Linked DNA regions of Homo sapiens. The protein of the gene in region 1 purifies or fractionates together with the protein of each later gene. This does not show direct contact. Each region holds a gene or a part of one and is shown in the gene's direction. Other genes may lie near its edges. The genes, in order: PGGT1B and PTAR1.

Region 1 (3,834 bases):
TATGAATAGTACAGAAGTAATACTGTCTTCTCAGTGCACTGTATTTGGAGGTGCAGCAAGTTGATTTGCCCTGTGTCTGCTCACTTGGTTAAGGTGGCATATGCCAGAGTTTTCTCTGTAAAGTTAGTGTTTTTCCCTTTGTAATTACCGAATATCTTGTGGTGAGATACCTGGAGACTAAATATTCAGTGAGTCCCTAATCAAATTTTTATCCAATAGTGTTGTTAGTATGCATTGATGATTTTCCAGCTCTAGCATCCTTCCTATAAATATCAGTTAAAATTCTACTGTTTGAAAAAAACTTTCTCTCTGCATTTATTTATTTACTTATACTTACTTATTTATATCTCTATGGACTTCAGTTTCTTATTTTATTCAGTGGGTTGTAATCTGTTACTGTCATTATTTTGATGCTCAGATTGTCCTAGATTAGGCCTGTGGAACCCCTTTTAGTAGGCTCTATGCCCTTTTGACATGTTACCCTCATTCTTTGAAGACCTCCTTGCTTTCTGGCACAAGATATTCCAGGTTTATCTTCTACTTTTCCATCCTCAGCTCTGGAATCAGTCATTTCTTTGAGGAGCCTTGGTTATTCTTGTTGGAGGATAGGGTTTAGAAACTAGAATCTGGGTACTAAGTATGCTCATTGGTATTGCGATGTCATTACTTCTAGGCCTTTTCTCGGGCAGAGATAGGAAATGTATGTGTACATAGGCATCCCCTTACAGACACACAGAATCTATATTTCTGTATCTATTTATATGTCTATATATTAAAATCATGAATCTATCGTGATGCCTCAAATTTCAGTCTTAACACCACAGGGCTCATTTTAACTTTCGTCCTTTCATTTATGACTCCATTTCTGATAGTGACAAGCAGTCCTGGCTCCTATTACCCAGAATACATTGGTTCTTTTTGTTTTGAGTCTGAGGGCATATAGTCAAAGTACTATATTTAAGAAGTACTCCAGTTACTTATTTTATTTCCCCCCTTTAATATGGTTATGTTATCTGTTTGAAGTACCATTAGGTTATTTGTTTCTCTTTGAATTCCATTTTAGGCTTTTCCTTCACTTAGCTCTCTCCTGCCCACAACTTCGTTGACTTTATTTATTTACTTAATATGTGAAAAACTAATTTGGTTCTTAAGGTCAGAACTATACAAAAAGATATATACAGAGAAGTGTGACTCCTTGCCCCTCACCCTCCCTGTATTCCCCCCTCTTCTTAACTCCCATACTTAACATCTTGTTCCCTGTCACCCTGTAGGTAACTATTCTCGTTAGTTTTCAGTTTATCTTTCTTACATTTCTTATTGATGAGAAGATATGGATATTTTTAATGCTTTTCCTTTCTTCATAAGGTAGCATACCATATTCTTTTTTTTTTTGCTGTTTGCTTTTTTCACTTAACAATATAGCTTGGGAGAAAAAAAAAAACACCAATACAATGTGAAAATTACTCCTTATCAGTTCAGAGAGATTTTTCTCTTTTTCTTATAGTTTCCTATTATATTACTCCACTGTGTGGATGTGCAGATGTACCATGGTTTTTTTCAGCTATTCTACATTTAGAGCATATATTTTGCAATTACAAATAATGCTGTAATTAATAACTTCCTGCATATATATTTCTATATTGTTATAGATACATCTTCAGGGTAAATTTCTGGTAGTGGAATTGCCTGATCAAAAGGTAAATGCATATGTAATTTTATTAGAGATTGCCCATTTTCTCTCCAAAAAGGATAGACCAGTTTGTTTTCCTACCAATATAAGAGAGTGCCTGTTTTCACATAGCCTCACCAATAAAAAGCGTTATACTTTTTTTGTTTTTACCTTTTTTTCTGGTAGTCGAAAAGTGATATTTCAGTATATTTTTAATTTTGCTGCCCTCCTCTCATGATTTTTCATTTTATTATTTCTTTTATTATGAGTGTAATTGACCATTTTCTTAACTCGAGGGCCATACAAATCCAGACTGCAGGCCAGAGTTAGCCTTTGGGCCATTGCTGACCCCTAGTTCTAGTCCATTATTTTGCATTTGCTTTTTTTTTTTTTCCTTCTTTTTTTTCTTTTTAGGAATTCCATTTTAGTGTCTGTTCTTATTTTTTTGCCTGACCTTCTTTTCAGCCACTTTCTCTTTGACCTTTTTGACTTATCTCATTTTTATTCTCTTGGATGTTTTCTCCTTTTTTCAGTGTCCCTTGTATTTTCATTTGAGATTATTCTTCCTTAGTCATCCTGTAATTTAAAATTTATTTCTTATTTTGTCTTTTTCTTCTATTTCTTTTCTAACACTATTTCTCTTTTTATTTCTATTGTTTGTTCATCTGTTTTTAGCTTTTAATTTCGTTTTTTATTTCCAAATGGTTGTTTGAGGGTATGTATTTGAGTGTGGAGTGCTACATTACAGTTTTCTTCTGATTCATGCCTATTTCTTGGGAGTAGAGGCAGATTTTCATATACTTAGGTGTTAGCGTTTCATTTGCTGTATTTTCATCTCAGAGTTACTTTGTATGTTAGTGATTTTTATTTTTTCTGATAAGAATTCCTAGTTTAAGATTGTTCTCTTCATTGTAATGCAGTATGCTTTCTTTACTGGGTGGCTTTTTTTGTAGCTGGGGTTGTTCTATGATTTTTCTGATAGGAAAAAGGTTCTCTTTTGTTTCTCAGGTATCTAAATTTTGCTTTTTTGAGCTTTCCTTTATCACCTGATTTTCAAAGGGCTTCTCCCTCCTTTTTTAACTTTCTTCACCAAAATTTACACTCTTTGAGCCCTGCCACTTTGACTTGCACATTCTTTTAAGTGCCTTCCATATAGCCAGTGCTGTGTTTACCAGGCCTCTTTCTGAACAGGCTATCCTCATTTTGCATGACAGTGCCATACTATAATGATAACCACACAAGCTGAAATGATACAAGGTGATTTTAATCATCAATGGGAAAAATTATGATTGTTTTATGACCTTTAAAATTTTTGCCAAAACTTTGAAAACTCTTCCTGTCAGTTATAAATGTATGATGTTTTAAATAGTAAAATCAGTATATAGTATACTATGATGTTTTAAATAGTAAAATCAGTATATGGTATACTATAATTTAAAACATTAGAAATATTGTGAATATTGCCTTCTTCTCATTATATAAATTATAAGATGGAGTATTTTTTCTGTGTCTTGGCAAATGACCACAATCTAAGTTTCTATCAGCTTCCAACGTTGTGTGTTTTGTGTTTTCAGTGTTGTGAAGTCGCTGAGAATTCCTTTTATGTGAAGTTTTTTTGCCCATAGCAGTTCCCTAGAACATCTTCCTCTTTTTTTATCACAAGCTCTTCCCTTGCTTATAGATGTTTCACCTTCACTTAGTTCTTCTGGTGGTATACCTAGAGTCTCAAACAGCAATATTATCAACATTCCCGTAATAGCTGTTTCTTCTATAACTCTAATTTTAAGTTCATACCCAGTGTTAATGCTTTTTATTTCTTTACTGCACTTTCATCTTTGTTGGCCAAGCCCCTCTTTCTGTTATGCCTTTTAATAAAACATCATGTGGGTTTATCACTGAGAGACAAAGAACACAACCACAGTCTGCTATCTGTGTGTGAACTGAATAACATGAGCAATGACCAATTCCTAACAGACTTTGAAAAAGGTGGTATGATTGATCACTGATCGCGATGCACATGTGTTATTTATGTAGTGATTTGCAGAGTGAAGAGCCAGCAACGGAGTTTTGTACTTTTTGCAATTATGGTTAATATGCTGCTGTGGTTACTGAAGTTTGTTGTGTTATTTAGCTAAACCATGGCAACTGGAATGTGTGCATAAGAG
Region 2 (3,328 bases), on another chromosome or scaffold:
TTTAGGAATCAGCCTTAATTTTAAGTATAGCAGTCACTTTCCTCAAGGTACTATGCAGCATACTTTAGATTGCTTATTTATCATTATAAGGTGATAGGTAATAAATTTGAGGTTTACTTGTCATATAATTTCATATGGCAGATATTGATTCAAGGAGCATTCTATTAGAAAAAGTTGATAAATTATCCTCCCTTACAAATATCATCTTGCATTTGGAGCAGGTATTTTTTTCTTATTAGTTAAAGACTGGGTACAGTTATAGTAGATGCTCAATAAATGCTTAGTCAGTGATTGATCTAACATCAAACTAACAGCTTTCAGAAAGGAGACTGTTGACATCTTTTCACCAAGGAGTATATTTGTAGAGTAATATATGTGTGGAATTTTGAAATTATATCATTTGACATGATTTATGAGGCTTATTTAAGCTGGAGTTAGTAACGTAATAGAAGTATTATTTATACAGAACATAGTTGAAAGATAGGAGATGTGAAAGATTAAGTAGTATTTTCTTGTGCAAGGCATATTAATAAATGTAATTAAATGTCTTAATAAGCAGCTGGCTGAACTCTAGAGAGAACTGCTGTAGTCTTCTGCAATCAGTCTCTGTATTGGTATATCCAGTACTATCGGGTTTAGGTTCTTTTTATTTTTCCTTAAATCTTACTTGTTTCTAGCGTCTTAAGAGTGGTAATGGTAAAATGTGAAGTTACAATAAACTTCTGCTTGTTTTCTCAGAACATCTTTGGCATGAGGAAGAACTTTTTGTGAATGATACAGTAGTCTCAGCATCTGTTAATTTGTGGTTTTCAAAGCATTTTTGACAGAGTTTACCTAATGTAAAAAGATTAAACAGTTTTATAAAACACAAATAAACATTCCTACCTGAACTGTGAGGAACAGAGTGTATAGTACAAATGTAATTAGGCATTGCCTCCTGGCGAGGTTCTTGATGCATGACTTCGATGCTGGCTGCTGACTGAGGTGACCACTGTCAGTATTGTACTTTGGCATATGTTGTTTTTAGGAAAATAATGGAATGCATTCTTAGATTAACTTACTGTTTTTGAGTTGGAAAAAATAAAAGATGAGGTATTATAAGTATGCCAAATATTTATACACTACAAAAGATTAAAAAAGGAGAGGGAGAAAAAAAAAGGCCAGTTATGATTTTAATAGCGTCTAATTTTTTTTTGACTCGAATTTTGTGGACACTAGTCAATTGCATAATTTAACATGGAGGAGCTTTCATTTAAAAGAAGTTCTCAGCTACTATATTCTGCCATTAAAATTAACCATGCCTGTTAATTTTACATTGCTTGAAGATATAAGTAAGCTGCCGTCAATATTGTTTTAAGATTTTCTTATAGTTTATGTTTAAATGGAAAAGTTACATATATAATCTATGGTGCAGGGTCAGGCATTGGCCATTAAAGATAAGTTTGGCTAACTATTTTACTGAAGAGACTAATGGTCTTCCCTCTGTTGTACTGCTATGTTTCTTGATCTGTTTTTCCCCAATGTAACAGTCTACATTGAAGTCCTTTAGCTCTCTCCATATACTAATTGACATTTGTTAAGGATTCAATATTTTGTGAATTCTTTTTACCCTTAAAATGCATATCTTTCAGAGAGATAAGAATGAATTTTGCAATAATTTATATGCAGAGTGTGCTTATGGGTTTCTGGGAGTTCAAGTTAGTACCCCAGAGTGCTTAAAAGTATGATGCTAAATTCTAAGGCTAATGTAATGACTGTAGATTATCTATGTCCACATTGTTCAACAGAAATATAATGTGAACCACAACATAATTTTTAATTTTCTAGTAGCCATATTAAAAAAGAAACAAGCAAAATTAATTTTAATAACAGTTTATGTAACCCAGTATATTAAAAATATCATTTCAACATGTAATCAATATAAAAGATTATTAATGAAACACCTTATCTTCTTTTTCTTCCATACTAAGTCTTAGATTTGAGTGTATTTTGCACTCACAGCACATCTCAATTCTGACTGGCCACATTTTAAGTGCTCAGTAGTCACATATGGCTAAGGGCTACTATACTGGACAGTACAGATTCATAGAGTATAAAATATGACTTTAACTTTGGAGATGGTGAGGTAGGCCTGTAATTATGGTACTTTAAAAATTCAGAATATTTAGAAAAGCATCTAATAGAATTATCCACTTGTTTTCCTTCATCTTCATTTTAATATGTTCTAGAAGTAGGATCAGCCTGTTCCAATTTGCCAAGCATTATTAAGGAGGAATAATTCCATACCATGTAAAATACCATGATATGCTGATTATACTACATTAACAAATTTTTAAGTTGCGTTCACTAAATTCTGTCCTGTTTCTTCAAAATAATATAGCTTAAATTGCATGTTAATTGTATATCTTACCTATTTTGTTTTTATATTATTCTTACAATATAATCATGTATATTAACAAACAGCCCTGGGATTCTAATCTTCCTCTGCAACTGTCTTCCAGGACTTACTGGCACTTATTACACTGTGATAAGTGGCAGAAAAGTAGAATGAAATATTCTTTTTCCATTAGATTTGTTCTTATGTGACCATGTACCAAGCCAGCTATAAAGTATTGTATTTCTGTAGAATATGGAAAATAGTATTTGTCTTACCTTTGCTAAATGTTTGCAATTTCTAAGTAAACCTTTTATCTCCTAAAATGAGTGTTAAGTGTGATTTTGTTTTTACTTTTGGTGCTTTAAACTTGAGTCTAGTCTACCAAGCTTTCCATTTTATTTGCTTTGATGGTGGTAGGGGGGTGGAGGTGTGAACTGTTGTCTAAATGAAACCAATAATTTTATGACCTACATTTGTAGAAAGAATAAAAATGCCACTATGTCTAGAACATAAAAGAAATGTCAAAAACAAATTAGAGATATCGCCACAGTTGTTTTTAAATTGTATTAACAGTGACTAATTGCCTTATAAAAGTTATTATGACTAGATACGCTTTTTCCCATCCATTTCAAATGAAGCTGTAGAGCACATATAATTACTCGGTTATTTTAGTGTTACATCCTATGTTTTCTCAATCCTGAGTCTCACTTCTGTATGTTATAAGCCAGATATAGTGGTCTTACTTACACAATATAATACATAGATAGACTCCAAAAAGTGTTTGATAAAGTGGATACTTTTTTTAACTCAAATTTTAAATATTTCAGAAGTGTGTTATGGGAAAGACCTATCTTACTTTATCCCTTGACTATTTAGGATTACATTTTATATAATGCACTACTATTATGTATATTTTGGGTAGGAAACAGGATATCAAATTTATTTTGCATG

The links.
Region 2: the proteins of PGGT1B (region 1) and PTAR1 fractionate together in Homo sapiens (co-fractionation; one large-scale study listed by BioGRID). This does not show direct contact.

What each region holds. Positions count from the first base shown.
Region 1 is NC_000005.10:115,231,774-115,235,607, reverse strand, and holds part of PGGT1B (geranylgeranyl transferase type-1 subunit beta), read left to right. Parts: intron 1-3,834. UniProt on the Homo sapiens protein: Catalyzes the transfer of a geranyl-geranyl moiety from geranyl-geranyl pyrophosphate to a cysteine at the fourth position from the C-terminus of proteins having the C-terminal sequence Cys-aliphatic-aliphatic-X.
Region 2 is NC_000009.12:69,708,897-69,712,224, reverse strand, and holds the end of PTAR1 (protein prenyltransferase alpha subunit repeat-containing protein 1), read left to right. Parts: 3' UTR 1-2,700; downstream 2,701-3,328.